Linked DNA regions of Homo sapiens. The protein of the gene in region 1 binds, or shares a complex with, the protein of each later gene. Each region holds a gene or a part of one and is shown in the gene's direction. Other genes may lie near its edges.

Region 1 (10,752 bases):
AGAGAGGAGTTCTCATCTGGAAGGGAAAAGTTGGGCAAGGATGTTGGTAGGAAAGGATAGAAGCTGGAGGAGAGGAAGTTGGGAACTCACACTGTGTATCCATATAGGGACAAGATGAGGCTTCTATTTACCTTCTGAGTAGCAGAGAAGGAACTTCCCGACATCAGGCAGGGCAGGGTCTCTGCTGAAGACTGACACCGGTGAGCACCAGCCACTGATGTTAACATTTTTCCCCTAAAAACCAACTTGAGAACCACCAGGGGTATACACACCACATTCTGCAAAATGTTGAGATCACTCCTCTCTAAAAAATATAAAGTGCTTTGGGTAACATTTGATGAATGTCCAAGACTTGTATGTTTCCACGATTATTTCATAGACAAAATATACAACTTAAAACACGCGTGATCTGCTGGTGCACACAAACACACACATCATAGCTAAATGAAAATATCAAGCATAGAACAGCTTTATTACACATTTTGCCAGTTCCTCATGTTTCTTCAACACTTGGCTTTTCAAAAACAAATTTTCGAGACGTTTTGTCTTTTACACTTTCCAGTTTTCACGGACCAAGATGTTAATAAAAGTAAACAACTTGGGGAAATCGGATGAGCGTTGTCATATTTGTAGATATCAGGATCTCTAAGAAGGAAAAATGTCATGTTTTGCCCTTAGTGATGTAATAGCACTTACGTGGAAATTCACCCATAGTATGTTAAGTATGTAAACTGTACTCATACTCAAGTTTACCAGACTATCCAGGTACTAAAACTAACACTAATGCAAATATATTTTAAAGGAATACATAAGTGATAAAAAGTGAAGTGCAGTAGAGTAACTAAGAACAAGTCCATTAGAGACAGACAGTTCTAAAACACTAGCATCATAGTATCATGTACTAGTATATATTGGTGTAACACACTACCATTATAGGGTTATTGTGAGGATTAAATGAGAGAGTGTTACATAAAGGATTTAAGGAGCACAGTGCTAAATGTATTTTAGCTGTTATTGTTCTAGCATGAAGAAGAATAAATTTAATAAGCTTCTTAGAAGTCTGATGGTTTTCATAACTTGGCTTTAATGAGTTTTAAATCCTGGCACTAATTTCCATATAGGCAGGTATATATTCATTCTGTTACCTCAAGGCTGACCTAATGGACTTGAATCAGCAGTTCCCAGAGTGTGGTGCACCGGCTCCTAAAGGTCCTAGAGTCTTTCAGAGGGCTACCAAGAAAAGAACTATTTTCATAATAAGTGTAAGGATTATCATTCTAATGTTATTAACAATAGCAAACTAATTTCATAATAATGCTAATCATCTAATACTATTTTTGTTTGTAATTATGTTGACATTTGCACTGATGGTGCAAAAGCAATGGTAGGTAACACCACTGATACCTTAGCATGAGTCAAGGCAGTGTTACCCAGCTGTGCTGGTACACATGGTAGTCTTCACTTTCATGTGCTCATAGAAAAAACAGAAGCTAGTTTTATTAACCAATGTCCCTGACGAAGCAGTACTTCTATTAAGTCCAGACCCTTGAGTGCACATCTTTTTAATATTTCATGTGATGAAATGGGAAGTACCCACAAAGCACTTCTGCTGTGTACTGAAGTATGATGGTTATCTTGAGGTGAAGCACTTGTACCTCCGTTTGAGTTGGGAACTAACTAGCCACATTTTTCACGGAACACTGTTTTTACCTGAATGAATGACACAAACTGTGGTATTCAGATTCGGGTATTTGGCAGATATTTTCTCAAGAATTAATGAAGTAAGTCTGTTACTTCAAGGAAAACAACTCAAAATATTTGTTACTAATGATAAAACTCAAGCTTAGTAACTTCTCAATACTTAAAGACTTTTATGATGAGATCAGTGGTGGTGATATTAATGAATGTGATTAGGCTGATATTGTGTAATGACATGTGACAATATTTGTAAGATCTGCATAACTCAGACATTTTCCAAATGAAAATACATGCTGTTATACAATCAATCATACATATGTAAAAAATCCATTCAAAGTGAAAAATAGATCAATGGGATTTCCTTGACATGGTTTTAGATTTCACATTGCAACTAACCTTTAAGAAACTACAACTTGTCATCTGGGCGCAGTGGCTCACGCCTGTAATCCCAGCACTTTGGGAGGCTGAGGTGGGTGGATCACCTGAGGTCAGGAGTTCAAGACCAGCCTGGCCAACATAGTGAAACCCCGTCTCTACTAAAAATACCAAAATTAGCCAAGTGTGGGGGCACATGCCTGTAGTCCCAGCTACTTGGGAGGCTGAGGCAGGAGAATCACTTGACCTGGGAGGTGGAGGATGCAGCGAGCCAAGATTGCGCCACTGCACTCACTCCAGCCTGGGCAACAGAGTGAGACTCCATCTCAAGAAAGAAAGAAAGAGAGAGAGAGAGAGAAAGAAAGAAACTATAACTTGTCAAGTTTGGGTGTAATATCAAAGAAAAATATCCAAAATGAAAAGGCTACTAAAATATTCCTCCTTTTCCCAACCACATATCTTTGTGAGTCCAAATTTTCTTCATATATTTCAAAATATCATACATTATAGATATATCCAAATACAAGAATTCACTTTTCTACTGTTAAGCCATACATTACAGAGGTTTACAAAAATGAAGAATAACGCCATTCTTCTCACTAGTTTTTTTTACATTTAGGACCATATAGTTATTGTTCATAAAAATTCATTATAGTTACATATAATAGGTTTATCATAAATATTTAAAATGAATTAATTATTTAAAAACTTTTTTTTTGGAGATGGAGTCTCACTCTGTCACCCAGGCTGGAGTGCAGTGGCGTGACCTTGGCTCACTGCAACGTCCGCCTCCCAGGTTCAAACGATCCTCCCGCCTCAGCCTCCTGAGTAGCTGGGACTACAGGCACATGCCACCATGCACAGCTAATTTTTGTATTTTTAGTAGAGACAGGGTTTTGCCATGCTGGCCAGGCTGGTCTTGAACTCATTACCCCAAGTGATCTGCCTGCCTCGGCCTCCCAAAGTGCTAGGATTACAAGCATGAGCCACCGTACCCGGCCCAAGAGTGTAATGAGATTCTGAGACCAAAATGTTTAAGAACCACTATTTTGAATAGTTCTGCAAAGTTGGGCTGGTTCTCCCAGAAAGACAGTGCTTAGAGCCAAACCTACTGTAAGAAGTGAACATTTCCTAGTAAGGTTCAGCAGTGGAACATTGTTAGGAAGGAAATTCAGAAGCTGGAGTTAGAATTGTAACAGTTCATTTTCACAGTAACAGATAAGTGGAACAGATTAGGACCATTGGGCTCAAGGCAGGCAAACAAAGTCATTTTTTGAAAGATAGGCTGCATGTCTGCATTAAGGAAAAAGAGCTGAAACTCTTTTTTTTTTTTTTTTTTTTGACAAGTTCTTGCTCTGTCACCCAGACTGGAGTGCAATAGTATGATCAGGGCTCACTGCAGCCTTGATCTTCCAGGCTCAACTCACCCTCCCATCTCAGCCTCCTGAGTAGCTGGGGCTATAGGCACACACCACCATGCCTGGCTAATTTTTTTGTATTTTTTGTAGAGACGGGGTTTTGGCCATGTTGTCCAGGCTAGTCTCAAACTCCTGGGCTTATAAGACCCTCCCACTTTGGCCTCCCAAAATGCTGGGGTCATAGGCATGAGCCACCCAACTGGTGGAGAGACAGGATCTTGCCATGTTGCCTGTTATAAGTAAAATGTTTATTTAGAAACAGAATGCTTGTTCCTCGGTACCACGAGGAAAAATCAGCATTTAGAGAGAAAGTTTTCTCAGCAATGCAATTTTAGTTTCTGCAGAAAGGGTGCTCCTTGCAGCTGGAACAATGGCAAGAGCACACCTGAATAAAGGAAAGAAGCAATTTTTATCCCTTACGCAGTTTGTCCCTGCTACTGTGCCTTGTCTCCATTGGCTGGAGCCAGACCTTACAATTTAAACTGAACCTGATAGGCTAACAACTTAAAACTTTTCTAAATAGGTAAAAGCAATGGAGAACAAAGGAAAAGAGGAAGTTATTTATGAAAAGACTTAGAAAAGTAGTAACATTCCCAAATAGGGAAGGGGCATAGGCTGCAAGCTGGGACATGCCAGTGAGCATGTCCAGCACAGGTATCTTGGTTAAAGTACATGGACATAGAATGTACTCATTCCCTTAGATCTAACAGCTACATAGGAAAGGGCTTAACAGAGAGTTATTAGCATAAAATAAGGTGGCTTGAAGGAAGTTAGTCTTTAAAAGAAACCATTATTTCTAACACTTATTATTCATTCTTTAACAAGAAGGGAAGCTTTGAAGAGGAAACTTTACTTTCTACATTGTCCAAGCTGGTCTTGAACTCCTGGGCTCAAGCAATCCTCCTGCCTCAGCCTCCCGAAGTGCTGAGATTATAGGCAGGAGCCACAGAGCCTGGCCCTGTTTGTTCTTGATGTGTCTCCAGACATATTAGGGAGAAATTTGTCCTTCTGTGATTCAAATAAGACAAAAGGAAGTGGCAATTGGATCTCACCTCTGGCCCACAATTCCAGCTCAAGGTGGGAGGTCATAATAAAAAGTGTTAGAACATTTCCTTGCTGGAATGGTAACATGGTCAACTGCAGAAATTTAGCTCTAAGATTGATGTGGGAATCCCTCAACTGTCTGTCTCCTTTCCAGTCAACAAGTGAACAATGCCAGCCCTGAGGCCCAGGAGCTTTTCAGATTCTGGCCTTCAGTCTAAGGGTAACGATGTTAAAACTTGAATATTGTTTAGGCTCTGAATTTAATAAGCGATAAAAACCATGAGAAACTATTTGACCCATTTCAGCCTCTTGATGTTCTGAAATTTCCATCTCACTGGGATGAAAAGAAGAAAGGCATGATCCAAGTAAAAAATGGGTTGTCTGTCCAAGAGGAAAAGGAAGCATAGGGACGAATTCTAGCTTTAGATGGGATTGTTTCTGGAAATAGGAGACACGTAGCACCACCAACGAGGTCAACACCAAGGAATGACTGCAAGTCACCCAGTAGGCTCTCCAAACCTTCCTTTAATCATTGAGGAAATGTTCCTTCCATATCCACCCAATCCATCTTGGTCACAAAGGACCATTTATCTTCCTCAAGACTGCTTCTATGTGAAGAAAATAAAGAATAATGATTCACGTGATCCCTGGCGTCGGCCTGGCTAGATCTCAATCCTGACTCTACCAGTTGTAATGACCTGGGCAGACGATGCCATCTCTCAGGCTTTAATTTCCTTCTCTGTTAAAATGACAAGCGGCAGTACTGATTTTATAAAGTTCTTGTGAGGATTATCTAAAATAATGACTATCAAGCACTTAATACAGGACATGGCACACACTGAGTGCCGAATAAACGGTAGTTATTATTAGGGAGGTTCTTTGCTTCGTATTCCCATCTGTGAGCAGTTTTTTCCGTTATTTCTCCGCAGAAACCCTTTCTCTCCGGGCTGCTGATCTGCGAAGCATCTGGTCCTTCATATCCCTGAGTCATCAGCATGAAGATGCCTGGTTTCCGAAGTCCTCCCTCCTCCTACTGCTCTCTAGGGCTCCCTCTCCTGACTGCTTAGTTCTCCTGGGGGCCCAGACCTAAATTTCGTGAGGGTATGTCTTTCTCGGGGCCGGGTCACCAGTCTTGGAGGAATGTCCTCAGTCCCCTTTGCCCCAGACACCACCAGAGATGCGGCAACAGAACTCTGAGGCGCGCCCCGGCTTCCAAGTAGCTGGGGGCGGGGCCGCGCCTGGAGGTGAGCAGCAGGCGGTGGGCGGGGCCGCGCTCCGTCCGAGGTGAGAGCGAGGCCGGGTGCGAGGCCACACCCCGAGGTACGAGAGCTGAGGGCGTGGCCACACCCCAGCTCTGAGCGAGGCTGAGGGCGGAACCGCACCCCGAAGTGGGTGCAAGGCTGGGGGCGTGGCCGCGCGGTGAGGCAGCCAGGACCGTGAGGGATGCGCCAGCCGCCTCCGCAGGCGGCGCGCGCAGCCGCCCGCAGGGCGTGAGGCAGAGCAGGGGTTAAGGCCGCCGGCGCCACCTGGGCGTCGCTGAGGAGACCCGCGAGCCGGCGAATCCCGCGCGGGCGGGGCGAACAGGTGCCCGCGCGCGTCAGGCGCCGGCAAGGGGCGGGGCGAGGGGACGCGGCCGGAAGCCCGGGGCGGGGCGCTGCCGGCCCGGTGAGCCGGGAGGAGCCGGGGAAGGCAGGAAGGAGCTCGCCGGGTTGCGCGGCGCGCGATGTGGAGCCGCCGCCTCGGCCCCTGCAGCAGCAGCAGCCGCCGTCGCCGCCGCTGCTGCTGGGGCTGCCGCGGAGCCGGGGGTCATGGAGTGCGGCTGCAGAGAGCGGCCGCCGGCAACAGCAGCAGCAGCAGGAAGCGTCGCGGCGACAGCGGAGCGCAGCCCGCCCCGTGAGGCGCTGCCCGGCCGGCGGCGGCAGCAGCAGCAGCAGCGGCAGCGGCAACAGGGCGGCTGAGAACCCGGCGGCGGCGTTCCTCCTCGCTTCCTCCCCTCCCGCTTCGCCGACCCTCAGTCTCTGTTCCTGAGTCCTCCCTTCCCCAGCCTTCCCGTTCCCACCACCTACTCCGCCACTACCCCCACCCCCTCCTCCCGCGCGCGCCTGAGCAGCTGAGCCCGGGGGCGGGGGAGGGGGCGCGTGCCGCCGGCGCGGGGGAGGGGCGGGCCGGCGCGCGCCGCGCCCAGGGCTCGCGGGGACCCGGGGGCGCGTGCCGCGGCGCGAGGCGAGGCGCGGGACGCGGGGCGGCGCGGCAGGGCCCCTCCCCCCTGCAGCCTGGCGCGCGCGGGCCGGGCCGCACCGCTGCGGGCTCCGCGCGCGCGGGCCATGTCCGCTTTCTGCCTGGGCTTGGTCGGCCGCGCTTCAGCACCCGCCGAGCCGGACAGCGCCTGCTGCATGGAGCTGCCCGCCGCGGCCGGGGACGCAGTCCGGAGTCCCGCCGCCGCCGCCGCCCTCATCTTCCCCGGGGGCTCCGGGGAGCTAGAACTGGCGTTAGAGGAGGAGCTGGCGCTGCTGGCGGCCGGGGAGCGGCCGTCCGACCCCGGGGAACACCCTCAGGCCGAGCCTGGGTCTCTGGCCGAGGGGGCCGGACCGCAGCCGCCGCCCTCCCAGGACCCCGAGCTGCTGTCGGTGATCCGACAGAAGGAGAAGGATCTGGTGTTGGCGGCCCGGCTGGGTAAGGCGCTGCTCGAGAGGAACCAGGACATGAGCCGGCAGTACGAGCAGATGCATAAGGAGCTGACAGACAAGCTCGAGGTGAGGACCTCCCTCCAGGGATGGGTGGGGAGCAGGGGCCGCCCAGGCACGCGCCCGGCCCTGGGCAGTTAGGGAACCACTCACCCCCACTTCGTTGCTCACCCTACCTCGCAGAAAATCTGGAATGAATGGGGGAGGGAGGATGGAGGATTATCAGATTTCGTTGAACCCACTTGACTTCCCCACCCCGCTCACAGCAAATGGGTCCATGCGTGGCTCCAGCCGCTGTGGGCCGTTCTATATACGTACTGTACCCAGCATCTAAAATAGAGCTTACAGTATGACTATATAGCACTGAGGTGATGTCTGCATACAGAGAAATGAGGAAGTCGGGAAGCATTTAAAATATGTTGCAGGTTTTCAGAGCAGTTAATCTCTAATCAGGGTGTTAGCCTAAAGCCTTCCAGTTTGGGCGTTAAGGCCTTTAGATGCCCTTGTCTTAACTTCCTGGCAGCTCAGAGTTGTGGGAAACAAGTGCCCCTAAAGGAGCTTTATATAGCCTTCAAATGCTCAGGGATTAGGAAATGTGGTTCCATTGCAGAAATCAGGCGAGCCAGGGCTCAACATGTGACCGCTGGTAGTGGATTTAATTTGGGCCTCAGTATTTATGTGTATTTAAACAGTACTTTTCTGTGTTCTGGGTCTCAGGCTTGCAATTGAATGACCAAATGCAACCTATGAGAACCATATTACTTTAACTTCTGTTATAAAATACCTGTTAAGGTATCCGTAATATTTCTGCCAGTTCTCTAGGCAGTCTTTCAGAGTTGTTTGTTTTCTTGCCCTTAACTAGAAAAGGGCCTTGAATGCAGTACAGAATGCCAGCATTTCTAAAAATTAGATTGCAAAAAAAAGGGGCAGGGGGATGGGGAGAGGGAGTCACCTGTGACTTACCTTTCCTGCCTGTGCGTTTACTATTATTGTTACCTAGTTTGGTTGCAGCCAGCTCTTTTCATTCTTAGTTACAGCAAGACAATAGTACAGACCTGAATGAGGTTTGAAATTGACCCTAGTCAGGTTCCGTATCTCTGCTACTGGTTGAACAGTCAGAATGGAAATTCAGAAATATTCTGTAATAAGATTTAAGTATGCCTATAGTCCAGCGACGTAAAAGTAAATCCGGGAGAAAAAAAGGAAACCTGTGAGTGCCCTGTAGTTCGGTTGTCCTGCTAACTAGGTCTGCCAGTCGATGAACTCCTGAGATACCTCTCTGAAAAGTCGTTTGTGAAACCTATAGGTAGACTGCCAAAAAGCAGCCTAATGAATTGAATTGTTTAATTTTCACTTGAAGTAGAGGTCTAGAAATAAAAAGCCTTCCTTTTTTTTTTATAAAGAGATTCAGTTGTACGACTTTGTAAAGAAGTACAACTACAGAGATTTATACTTGTGATTTGAAATTTCTTCAGTGAAGGACTTGATTGAAGAGACAGCTGACTTGAAAGGAGCACCGTATCAGTTTGATTAGTGCCAGATTTCATAGTAATCCTGAGTGTGCAATTACATACATTCTGGGTTCCATGTGGAGCCTTTATACATTTCTTCAACATAGGGCAAAGATTTCAGAATGGTAACAAAAAAAGGTTGTATTGTAAAAGAATAAATTATCTTTGACATTTTGTTATTTACTTAATGGACAACAATAGTTTAAAACTCTTTAAACTATTTTTTAAAACCTTCATTCCTCTGCAGGTCAGCATATGAACTCTAGTTTTAAAAGTTCAATTTTAAGTTCTGGAGATAGTCGCACAACAATGTGAATATAACTAACATATACTTAACATATACTTACAGGCCAAATATTGATCATTGTTGAAACTCAGTGATGAGGGGAGTCAGTTATATTATTTCTTATAGGTAGGTTTGAAAATTATAAAAAATTTTAAAGTTTTAAAAATGTTCATTAAAGATACTAAGAGAGTACCATTAGTTGCTTGTTAATCTTTCTAGTGTTAATGTGAGAGTGACAAACCTGGTTTACAGAGTACTGTTTTATTTGACACCTCCGGTTTAGTTTTCCCCACAGTACATTGTTTGAACAATGTAGGTTTTAGAATGTCTGTTTAGACAATACTTTCTAACGTTCAGTACAAACTGCTGTACTTTGTACTTTTTTCTTTTTTAGACAAGATCTCACTCTATCCCCCAGGCTGCAGTGGAGTGGCTGATCATGGCTTACTGCACCCTCAAGTGACCCTCCCACTCAGCCTCCTGAGTAGCTGGGACTACAGGCGCCTACTACACACCTGGCTAATTTTGTAAAAATGTTTCGTAGAGATGGGGTCTCACTATGTTGCCAAGGCTGGTCTCAAACTACGGGGCTCAAGCAGTCCTCCTGCCCTGGCCTTCCAAAGTGGTGGGATTACAGGAGTGAACCATTGAGCCTGGCCTGTATTTTCAATTAAATCAAACACTTGGGAGTATAAAACCAGTACTTTAAGACGCATTTATTCATGAGAGAACTTGACCAGAAAAAAAAAATTTATAATCTTCCACAAACTGTCGGACATTTGGAGTCAAACACATTTTCTTACAGGGTGGTTTGAAAGAGAAACATGTGAGTGGACTGAGGGAATGCCACTTTCACTATTGAATAATGAGACTGGTTTTATTTTAATCCCATCTTCTCTACTACTTCAAAATTGGCACCTTTCTTCCACCCCCCCACCCTGCCCCCCAGATGGAGTCTCGCTCTGTCGCCCAGTCTGGAGTGCAGTGGCGCAATCTCAGCTCACTGCAAGCTCCACCTCCCAGGTTCATGACATTCTCCTGCCTCAGCCTCCTGAGCAGCTGGGACTACAGGCGCCCGCCACCACGCCTGGCTAATTTTTTTTTTTTTTTTGTATTTTTAGTAGAGACGGGGTTTCACCATGTTAGCCAAGATGTTCTCGAGCTCCTGACCTCGTGATCCGCCTGCCTCGGCCTCCCAAAGTGCTGGGATTACAGGCATGAGCCACTGCGCCGGGCCGGCACCTTTCTAATGTCGGGACAAACAAGGCATTTTCAAGATCTTTTCTACCTATTCATTAGTTAATACTAAATACCTCTCTGGTTCTGTGTGCCAAGCCCAAGATTTTGTTGTTTTCATTTCAAACATTAAAGTACTTGATGCTACACTATTGTGTCATTAAAGGCATACTATTAATATTTAAAGTCTTCAGTGGTTTAAAGGTTAACAGAAGTTTTTTAGTTATATGTCTCTTGGGGTTAAAATGAAAATTCAGGTTAATTGGAAAAACTGTAAGGTTTGGGCCATTTTTTCCGCTCTTGAATTGACTCTGTATTTTGTTACTCATTCACTGAATCAGATGCTTAAAGTTGTTTCTTTTTTTTTTTTTTTGAGACAGAGTCTTGCTCTGTTGCCCAGGCTGGAGTGCAGTGGCGTGATACCAGCTCACTGCAACCTCTCTGCCTCCTGGATTCAAGCGATTCTCCTGCCTCAGCCTTCCGAGTAGCTGGGATTACAC
Region 2 (11,354 bases), on another chromosome or scaffold:
AGCCATTGTGTATGCGCACTGGCTCTTTCAGCCTTTACTATCTAACCATTCAGTCAGTGCTGAAGCAGTTGTTATGGAGGCCTACCTGTTCAACTGTTAGTGAGACCTGGCCTGCCACATCATCATTACTGTCTAAATTCCTAGCACAGAGGAGTTTATCAAATGCGTGATATCTGGGCCAAAGATCTTTTTTTTTTTCTTTGAGACAGAGTCTTCCTCTGTCGCCCAGGCTGGAGTGCTGGCGAGATCTCAGCTCACTGCAATCTCTGCCTTCCAGGTTCAAGTGATTCTCCTGCCTCAGCCTAGCTGGGAATAGTCCCAGAGTAGCTGGGACTACAGGTGCCCGCCACCACGCCCAGCTCATTTTTGTATTTTAGTAGAGACAGGGCTTCACCATGTTGGCCAGGCTGGCCTTGAACCCCTGACCTCAGGTGATTCACCTGCCTTGGTGTCTCAAAATGCTGGGATTACAGGCGTGAGCCACCATGCCCAACCTGGGCCAAAGATCCTTTGACGTCATACAGCATGAAAGTGTGGGGGCTGCCATGTGACTCACCATGCGGGTGGCCCAAGCCACATACACCTGGCAGGCCATCACCTGTTGGGGAGATGGCTTTACTCCTCAGCCAGTGAGGGGCAGAGAGGAGACAGGGGAAGGTGCTTACGTGGGTAGGCAGAGCTCTCCAGGGAACAGTGAGGAAGGAGGGGAGGCTGAGCTGCCAGAGTGACTACACACCAGGTTAGGTTTGAGCCTGGGCATGTCTGTGTGTGAGGACACTGCCAGCCTTTGCCTGGGCCCCTGGGGAGTCTTTGTTTATGTGCAAAGGCAGAGCAGCTTGGTTGGGAGAACATCACTTCCTGTTTTGTTGCCAGGCCCCAGCTAAGCGGTCCAGTTCTCCTAGAGGGAGCCACCCAGCTGTTCCCTGACACCCCTCAAGCCCCTCTCCCTCCCACCTCTGCTGAGGCCGCCTCCCTTATCTTATGTATCCTGCCTTCCTGGTGGAGGGCGCTTGTGTCCAGGAAGTGGTGCATGGTGAGCCCAGCCTGGTCTGTATCCGCTGAGCCCTGACCCCTAAGGGACCTTGGTTGGTGTCCCTGATATGGGTCCCAAGACTCACTAGGCCTCATCAAAGCTCCTGCCCTCCTAGAGCTAACATTCTAGGGGGACATAAGTGCACAAAGGTGAATATGCACAACATACAGTATGCAACAGAGGGAGGGAAATAGAACCAGGGAAGGGAGTCTGCAGCCTACAGCCGTGAGGGTGTAACCAAAAATAAAATTTGAAGGCACGCCCAACCATCTGAATGAACCTCCTCCTCAGCCAGGGCATTCTAAAATTTAACTTGAAAGACTAACCTGTTCAGGCCATGACATGAAGTGGGGGTTGGACATGCCCAGGGTTTATTTTACATCAACACAAACTTTAAGTCTGATAAGAAACATTTACAGTCTAGTATATCTAAAGCCTGCTATTTAAAGGTTTCATATGCATGATAAAACCTCAGCCTTTACAACCCCTGATGATAAACCAGACATTCCTTTCTACTGATAATAAATAACTTTTTCAACCAATTGCAGTCAGAATATGTTTAAATCTACCTAAGACCTGGAAGACCCCCCACCCCTTGTACACTTCAAGTTGTCCCGCCCTTCTAGATGGAACCAATGTAAATCTTACATGTATTGATTGATGTATCACTGTTACTGGAAAGGGGTTCTGATCCAGACCCCAAAAGAGGGTTCCTGGACTTCGTGCAAAAAAGAATTCTGGGTGACTCCATAGAGTAAAGTGAAAGCAAGTTTATTAGGAAAGTAAAGGAATAAAGAGTGGCTACTCCATAGGCAGAGCAGCATCATGGGCTGCTTGACTAAGGATACTTATAGTCATTTCTTGATGATATGCTAAAGAAGGGTGGATTATTCATGAGTTTTCTGGGGAAGTGGTAGGCACTTTGCAGAACTGAGGGTTCATCCCCTTGTTAGACCATATAGGGTAACTTCCTGACATTGGCATGGCATTTGTAAACTGTCACGGCGCTGGTGTGAGTGTCTTAGCATGCTAATGCATTATAACTAGCACATTATGAGCAGTGAGAATGACTAGAGGTCACTTTTATTGCCATCTTGGTTTTGGTGGGTTTTGTCTGCCTTCTTTTTTTTTTTTGAGGCAGAGTCTCGTTCTGTCACCCAGGCTGGAGTGTGGTGGCGTGATCTTGGCTCACTGCAAACTCTGCCTCTCGGGTTCAAGCAATTCTCCTGCCTCAGCCTCCCGAGTAGCTGGGATTACAGGCACCCGCCACCACTCCCGGCTAATTTTTGTATTTTTTTAGTAGAGACGGGGTTTCACCATGGTGGCCAGGTTGGTCTCGCATTCCTGACCTCAGGTCATCTGCCCGCCTCAGCCTCCCAAAGTGCTCGGATTAAAGGCGTGAGCCACCGTGCCCAGCCTTGTCTGGCTTCTTTACTGCAACCTGTTTTATCAGCACGGTCTTTGTGACCTTTATCTTGTGCCAACCTCCTATCTCATCCTGTGAGTTAGAATGCCTAACTTCCTGGGAATGCTGCCCAGTAGGTCTCAGCCTTATTTTACTCAGCCCCTATTTGAGATGGAGTTGCTCTGGTTCAAATGTCTCTGACATTATGTCTCCCAAAAATGTATAAAAGCAAGCTGTACCTTGACCACCTTGGGCACATGTCATTAGGATCTCCTAAGGCTGTGTCATGGATGCATCCTTAACCTTGGCAAAATAAACTTTCTGAGTTGATTAAGATTTGTCTCAGATACTTTTTGGTTTACAAGAGCTACACAAGAGGAGAGGGGAAGGAAGAGGTTGAGGAAGGGCCACACTTGAGCGTGCAGGGCCTTGGAGGTAGCTGTGATGATGGGGCTTTGACTTTGGTTGGGTTTTGAGCAGAGTGGGAATGGGACCTGACTTGGGTCTAAGGAAACTCTTGGCTGCCCTGCTGTGAGAGAAGCCTAGGGGAAGGAGGAGGCAAGGAGGCAGTGAGAGGGTGACGGTAATGGTCCAGGTGATAGGGACTGGGGCAGAGAAATTCCAGGTAGAAAAGGGCGGGTCCCTGGTGAAGCCTCACCGTCAAGCTGAAAGGCCTGAAACCGCAGCCCAAAATAAGAACTTATATCCCTGTTTCCCACTCAAATGTCGCTGTTTCCTAAACTACCCATGGCCCCGCCCTGCCCCATCCTTTGCCTATAAGGACCCCAGGCTCAGCCAGCAGACAGGAGAAGCAGCTGGATGTCGGGGACTATGGCTGGATGTTGGAGAGAAGCGGCTTGACTTCAGAGTGACAGCTTGATGGTGTAACTTTGGAGAAGAGTCTGGCCAGAGACAGAGAGACTTGAGGAGAAGAAGGTGGCATCATTTCTACCCCTCAGGGTATTGTGAAGATTGAATGAGAAGATGTATGTCACGTACCTGGCAATGTTGGGAACACATGCAGAGCTCAGTAAGAGGTGGCTCATTATCTGCTGCCAGGATCACCCTGCTTCTCTTATCTTTGCAAGCCCCCTATTCCTGCAGCCTTGGGCTGGCCAGTTCCTGTGCATCCTCTGGGTCTCCCTCAGGTGTCTTCTCAGGGAAGCCTTTCCCGATCCACCCCACCCCATCACACATTGCCACTCGCACCCAGAGCTGTCCCTCCTGCCAGAAGGAAGACCACAAGGGTAGTGACAGACCCTCTGCCCCCAGCACCTAGGAGAGTCCCTACCTGTAACAGAATGTTCCTGAAACCTTCCCTGGCCTCCCTTCCACCACCACCTGTTTCCAAGTTCAAAGCGCCATGGTCAGTCCCTGCGTGGGACTCCCATGGTCTTTCTCCCTCCCTCCTCAGACCTGCCCCACAGCAAGGTATGGCGGGGGGTGGGGAGGTTCGAGTCAGATCAGCCTGGATCAGGTGCAGGTGTTGCCCTGAGGCTGTGTGACCTTGGGCAAGTCACTGTGGGGCATCAGTCCCTCCCTTGCTAAGTACACACTCAAACAAGTCTTGTTCCTTCTTTACACTGGGAGCTCTCCCACTTACAGTTAACAATTTGCCCAGCCCAAGACAGTCCCAGGTAAGCCAGGAAGGTTGGTCTTCCTATTCCTACTACAACTGAACTCCTTAAAATTAGTTAATTTCACAAGCCAATCTATGACACATTCTCCTCAGACAAACAAAACACTAAAAAGAATCAGGGCTCCTTGGGGAAATGACTGATTTCAGGTCTGGGACATGGAGAGCACAAGATGATCTTGGAACAATTTGCATCAGACATCAAGGAAGTAATAACAATAATAACAAATTACGATGTTTTGAAGACATGGAGCCAGCTTGGAGGAGCTCCCACGGGCCAAATCTGCTACCATTTGAGCATCAAAGCAAGTAAGGAAAGTAATGGATTGTAACCCACGGAGTAAAATAAGAATCCATGGATCCATACTGCTAATGAATGAGAGAGAAGGGAATAGATGAGAAGGTATAGGTGCCTCACAGTACAAAGGCAACTCATAAATGGAGAAGGACTAATGGAAATAGAAAAGCAGCCAGTATGGCTGGTCGCGGTCGCTCACGCCTGTAATCTTAACACTTTGGGAGGCCGAGGCAGGCAGATCACGAGGTCAAGAGATCGAGACCATCCTGGCCAACATGGTGAAACCCACTCTCTACTAAAAAAAAAAAAAAAAAAAAAAAAATTAGCTGGGCATGGTGGCATGCGCCTGTAGTCCCAGCTACTCGGGAGGCTGAGGCAGAATCACTTGAACCCGGGAAGCAGAGGTTGCAGTGAGCCGAAATTGCATCTCTGCCCTCCAGCCTGGGGACAGAGCGAGACTCTGTCTCAAAAAAAAAAAAAAAAAAAAAAAAAAAAAAGCAGACAGTATGGTAATAATTATTTCAGGCAAGAAGTAGTCATGAATGCCAAAACCAGTGGGTCAAGGTTTGAGGAGTCATAGGCTATATCTATGGTTGCAAAGTCTTCACTCATGACACTAATTACCAAAGAAAAACCCAGCATCAATCAGAGAAATGCAAATCGACATCACATACCTCCCGGCTGGTGCTCTGAAAACTCAGCAACACCTCAGTGACAGTCCTGCCAGAAACGCATCACCTCATCACCCCATGAGCATATACCAGTGTGCACTGCACTCCTCAGAAAGGTCAATCAAAGGAGACTCAGGAAACCTGACGACTGAATGCAACTGGATCCTGGACCACAAAAACAATACTGAAACTCTCCAGTATGGTGTTGGGCCCTCGTGCAATTAGAGTGTGGACTGTGCATTAGATAGTGTCAGTACCCTGTGTGCTGTGATTTCTGCTGTCATGGCTTCTTTCTAATTTGGTCTTGAGGGAGAGTGACCATAAGCCAAGATAGCCACTCTCTAGGAGAACCGAATGGGTGTGGGGTTCAGGTGAGATACAATGAGAAAGTAAAATTAAAAGGTACAAAACAGAAGGAATTTATTATTCTTAGGTTCCGGAGAGGTTAGGGATGCCTAAGAGAGGCGGACAAGCAGATGGAGAGGGGCAGTGAGAGACGGTGGGAAGGAAGGGACTATGGCTGTGCTAGGGTCCATGGAAATCATCCTTTAGGATTTCCCTTGGGGCCTGTGGACTGGCTAAAGAAAATACGAGGGAAGGGTGAACTCATCTGCACTGATACTGGCCATTAGGTGCTATGGCGGTCAGCGGCTGTGGGGTGTGTTGCGCTTTAGGTCAATGAGATAAAGAATAAACGAGTTATCTCACACACCACCATATACGGAGAAGTGTTACCTACGCCAAGGCGAAGGGTACGACTGGCTTTCAAACAACTTAAGTCAGGCCTAAAAATAGATGCGGAGACAACAATTATATTTACCACGTTTATGACCCTGTATTAATGGAAATGTCTTTATTCCCAAGAAATAGACCTTGAAGGACTGAGGGGCGGTGCTGAGGTTCCCGCTGGCCCCTGGGCGCCCCCTGCTGGCCCGTCCTCCTCCCGCCCCCAGACGTCTGCACAGAGCATGCGTCACACCGTCCACGGGTTTCCAGCAGCAGCCGTTCACCCGCGCTCTCGGATGCGCTTCTAGCTCGTGGCCTCCCGGGCTCTGTCCGCGTTGTTCGTCCCACGGTCGGGAGCCCAGTCCTGCCGCCCCGCACCCGCCTCCCCCTGGGGGTTCTCCCGGCAGCCGTCTTGCCACCCCGCGTGGCCGCCGGCTGCCAGAGGCACAGGGGAGCGCGAGGCCCGGCGACCGAGCAGTGTCCCCGGCTCTGAGTGTGGGGAAGGCCGCGGGGCCGCGCCCACTCGACCGCCGTCCAGGGGACTGCAAGGCGCCGGTACATCCGGCTCGACGCTGGCGGCGCAGGCCAATCACGGACGGGGACGGGTGGGCGCGGGGCTGGACGGGTTTTGTAGTCGGTGCGCTAGCGGGACTACTGTCCCCACAGCCCCCTGGGCCACATTGGCGTCAGTGGCTGCGCCCGAGGGCCCGCCCCTCACAGAGCATGGGCCAATCATAGCCGGGGGCCGGGCGGGCGCCGGGCATGATGGACCTTGTGGTCGGAGCGCAGGCAGGACTCCAGCCCCCAGCGGGCCCCGCGCGCCGGAGGGGAGGAGCCGTGCGGCGGCGCGGGCGGGCGGGCGGCCGTCGGGGCAGGGCGGCGGCGGCGGCGGCAGCGGCGGCGGCTGAGGAGGGCCCGGCCTGCGAGAGCCTCAGTGGGAGCCGGCTCAGCCCTCGGCCACCATGTCGGCGCCGTCGGAGGAGGAGGAGTACGCGCGGCTGGTGATGGAGGCGCAGCCGGAGTGGCTGCGCGCCGAGGTGAAGCGGCTGTCCCACGAGCTGGCCGAGACCACGCGTGAGAAGATCCAGGCGGCCGAGTACGGGCTGGCGGTGCTCGAGGAGAAGCACCAGCTCAAGCTGCAGTTCGAGGAGCTCGAGGTGGACTATGAGGCTATCCGCAGCGAGATGGAGCAGCTCAAGGAGGTGAGCCGAGCCGCCCTGCCCTGCGACCCCCGCCCGGCGCCGGGGCCTGTGGGCGTCGTCCCTGGCACCAGGGCGGCCAAGGTCAGCTTGCCAAGCGGGGGCCGGCAGGGGTGGGCCGCCGGGGCGGAGGGGGCACGGGCAGTATGTGGGAGTGGGCCCGGCCTTGGCTAGCAGGCCGGTGCCGCGGCCGTTGCAGACGCCGCTAATGCAGGGGTCCGGGCGCCTTGTCGCCTCCTGCAGCTGCCCGCCTGCTTCTGTGCGGACCTGGGCGGCCCCGGCGGGGCGGGGCTTCGTAAGGGCTGATGCTTTGCGGTGGTCGCTGTTCCGGGTGTGTCTGAGTGTGGGGTGGGGTTGGGAGGGCAGTGGCTGAGCCGGGAGCTGAGGCCACGGATGCTGGTGACCCGCTGGGAGAGGCCGAGGGTGGGCCTGGGTCTGGGTGGCTGCGGCTCTGTCACCTTCAGAGAAAGCACTTCCCCTCTCTGGGCGCAGCTACTTTCGGAGCGTTTCTGCTTCTTTCATGAGTGCCTCCGAGGTGGGGAAAGGTCGTGGACAGCGGCCTAAGTGAGTAGGGGCTCGGGGTTGCACGTGGAGGTTGCCCCTGGCATGGGTCCCCCAGTACCCTTGCCCCAGGCCCAGCGCTGTGTCCTCATGGCCGGGATTGCGCTCCCACCAGCTAGCATGACTTCCCTGGCCCACTTCCTGTCCAGCCCCGCTTCTCGGGCCCTTCCCCTCGCTGTGGCTTGCTGTGTTCCTCTTGGACGGAGACCTCAGTGGTCTGTGTCATTCCCACTGGGGGGAGAGTAGGTTAGACCACCAGGCTGGTCGAGGGTCTCCAGGCGGCAGGGCAGCGGGAGTCTTGGACAGTCCTTCCCCAGCTTCTCTTCTCCCGTTCCCTGACTCCATAGCGTTGTTTGCAGGAATTGCTTTCTGGGAGGATACACCAGGGTTTGGATCCAGGCTGTGCCCCTTGCTAGTGATGTGGCTTTGGGTAGAGGCCCTCCGTGAGTCTTAGTTTCCCCCTCTGCAAAATGGGAGTGCAGTACTGCGTGCCCAGAAAGGATTGTTGTGAGGGTCATGTATTTGGAAAGGACTGGTGTGCGGTCAGGAGTATAGCTTGGTGGTGTGCTCCCTTCCCCCACTTGAGTGTGTCCTGGTGAGCCCTTGGCTCTTGGTTTCCAGGCTTATCACCTGGCACCTCTGCTCCCAGTCAGCCCAGACAGGTGCCTAAATCATTTGCAGCCTTCCTTGCCTCCCCCGTGTCTGAGGAGACCCGTCTGTGGAGAGCAGAGAATGAATCCAAGCAGATGCTTGGATGTCTGGGCAGAGCAGGTGCTCAGTTAGTACCAGTCAATGGCTGACCCTGGGCCAGCAGGAGCTGGGTCCTCCCCCATCGCCCTCAGGACTCGATTCTGTTGTCTGTCAGCAGGTATTGGCACCTTCTGCAATGCATGCTCCAGTGGCGCTGGAGCTACAAGAGGGGTGAGATGCAGCTGCTCTTGCAAGAGTCCCCATCTTAGGGTGGGGCGTGTGATAGGGAGGCAGGGGGCTCTGAGAATATGGAGTGGGAGTGGACTCGGCCAGTTTCTGGTCTCCTGTAGCGGGGCTCACCCTCTCCAGCAGGCAGCACTATCTGTTAGGGCGCTTTTCCCTCTGCACACAGTGAAGCAGCCCTCTTCCTCCTACCAAGTGCATCGTGAGCCGCTCCTGGGCAGCCTCTACAGTCCCTGTCTCTGTCCACAGCTTGGGTTTGGCAGTGTCCTCTGTGAGAAGGAATTGTCGCTGACTTAACTTGTCCCCGCTTTGGTGCCCTTCATTTGTCAGGTCTTTGCTATTCTGACACAAACGTTTTGGCACAGTGAAGAATCTTGGCATTTTCGTGGCATGTATCTGGAGGGTGAGTCCCTAGCAGAATCAGGAAGAGGGTATACCTGTTTCTGTGGGTACTCTTTAGGCGTCTGCTTGCTTGTTTTTTGTCACCACCTGGCTTCCATGTACTGGCCACATGGCCTTGGACAAATTACTGCTCTGTTCTGAATCTAGTTCTCCTTTGTAAGGTGGGATAAGAATGTTTCTGCTCGGTCTCTAGCAGAGTCTAGAGGAATGTGCATCAGCGTTTCAGTTTCAGTAGATGTTGCCAGAAAGTTTGTACCAGTTCACCCCCCATCAACAGCATGCGTGTTCCTCACACCCATGCCAACACAGGCTCTTGCTAACCTATTTAATTATGGCCAGTATTATAGTTGAAAATATTAACTCTTCATTTAAAAAAAACCACAAGATTTAAGGAGTCAATAATTGTGGGGTTTTTTTTCTCCTGTAGAGCGGTGTACCGCCTTAATTCTTTAGAAAACTTTATTTCTTGAACTAAAGTGCATTTAGTTACTAATAAATTGTGCTCCAAATGGAGTTGCTTGTACTTCTGCCCTGCATTTGTAGATAATAGGATCGTTGAGGGAAGGACGCTGGCCTGCTGGTCCCAGTGTGTGGGTTTCTGATCAGAGCTGAGGAGGGTCTTGTGGTGATGAATGGGAGACAGTGCCAGTCCTGTTGCCTTTCTCATGGGATGGGGGAAGTGTCTGTGTCCTGCTGACAACATAGCACGGTGCTGGCTGAGACCACAAGTGAGGTGGGTGCCCCCTGGTTGATTTTGCCTAATCATTCTGCTAGTGATTTCTTGAGCCTGACTCAGTTAAGACCATATCTGTCCCCGTTCCCACTGTGCCCTTTCCCTTCCTCTCCCTGGAATGGTGGGGAAGAGAATTAGATGGGCTTTGGTCAGCAACCTGGTGTTCCTGGTCCTGCGTGGCCGTGAGACACTTTGTTCTGTGTTCTTAGCTGTAGCTTTAAGAGGACAGGTGTGCTGAGGTGGCAGCTCCTGCCTTCAGGGCACAGGCAGGGACTGTAGCTAGGTGGGCTAAGGCTAGGTGCCCATGTGGTCCTCATGGTCAGGGGAGGGTAATGGGGGAGGTCTGAGAACAGTCTTGACTCCACCTGAGCTCAGGCTCAGAGAGGAGGTCTGGACACCCTCACTGCCTTGGTGTGCCACCTTGGTGTCATAGTGTCAAGCTCTGGAGCACCATTGTCCTTGTCTGAGAGGTGCACGTGGGTGGAATTGGGTGTTGGACTGGGCACAGCACCCAACACGCAGCAAGTGCTTCGTAGGTCTTCTGCGGACTGAATCTCATGCCTCACTCAGGTCTCTGTCTCCTTGCTGCTGCACCTGCAGCTTCTCCCCGTTCTTATCCTTGTCCCTGCTCAGTCTCAAGTGGCTTCCATTGCCACCTCCCAAGGGCTGCCCTAAGCATTGTCTCAGGCCCCTACAGCCTGGCTTGGGACTGCCCTACCTCTCCTGTGCCCACATTCACCCTTTGTCTTAGAAGTCCCACCTGCCCTTCAAGCTTGGGTGTCTCTAAAATTCCCCTGCCTGCTGCCTTCTGGACTTGCTGAGCCCTGTTCCCAGCACCTGGGCAGCTGCAGGAAGTGGGGGCAATAGGGTGATTGGCAGAGGACCCTCCAGGAGGTTCCTCTGCAGAGTTACTGGGGGTGAGGCCCAGCCTCTTTGATTGTTTGCTTCCAGAGCAGGAAAAGTCCTGGTCTTGGTTAAAGCAAGTGTGGGATTCTCCCATTCGTCTGATAACCCCTGAGAACATTGTTGTGTCCATTTCTGAACAGAAGGCTGTTGGGAGCAAGGAGGCTCTGGGAGACCCAAGGGCCTTTCAGGGGGCTGGGTGGTGGCAGTGGTCTGCTGTTGGTATGAGGAAGCCTGGCTTGGGTGGGAGCTGGGGCCCTGTGAATACCTGAAGCACAGATGGGTCTGACAGTTGGGGAGAGGCAGCTATAGGCATCCAAAGATGATGACCATGTGGCTACACTGTTGTCACTAATTGTTGGGCAATTCTCTCCCCGCTGGGCCTCTCTTTCCCCACTTTTAGAATATGGGGCAGGGGGTCATGAAGGAATCTTTAGGGACCCTTACACTTTTAAAAATGTCTGAAACTCCCACATCGAGCCCTGGTGCTGTTTCTTCCTGTAGGGCCTGGCGACTGGGCACTTGTGTATCTCAATCATCCTGGGACCTGGCCAGGGAATCTGCCCAGCCCTAGGCATGCGGATGGTGTGCTCCAGGCCAGCCCTGCCAGCATGTGGAGGCGTGGACCTGGCCACCCTCCATGGGATTCAAGGCAGGCACAGCTGTGATGGAGCAGCTCGTCTTTGGGGATGCCAAGCGAGCATGCTTTGTGGCTTAGCAGGTGGATCCAGAGGAAGGCCAGGCCCAGTGCTGGGAGCCCCTGGGCCCCTGGGGGTGCCTGGCACCACCTGAGCAGGACCGACTGTATATGATGTCTGTCCCTGTGAACTCCATACTGACTCCACAGGGGGAGT

What was found.
Region 2: BICDL1 (region 1) and BICD2 share a complex: the UniProt entries of both Homo sapiens proteins name them as parts of the tripartite complex.

What each region holds. Positions count from the first base shown.
Region 1 is NC_000012.12:119,983,010-119,993,761, forward strand, and holds the start of BICDL1 (BICD family-like cargo adapter 1), read left to right. Parts: upstream 1-6,226; 5' UTR 6,227-6,859; coding exon 6,860-7,288; intron 7,289-10,752. UniProt on the Homo sapiens protein: Acts as an adapter protein linking the dynein motor complex to various cargos and converts dynein from a non-processive to a highly processive motor in the presence of dynactin.
Region 2 is NC_000009.12:92,760,122-92,771,475, reverse strand, and holds the start of BICD2 (protein bicaudal D homolog 2), read left to right. Parts: upstream 1-6,642; 5' UTR 6,643-6,731; coding exon 6,732-6,971; coding exon of another isoform or gene 6,972-7,052; intron 7,053-11,354. UniProt on the Homo sapiens protein: Acts as an adapter protein linking the dynein motor complex to various cargos and converts dynein from a non-processive to a highly processive motor in the presence of dynactin.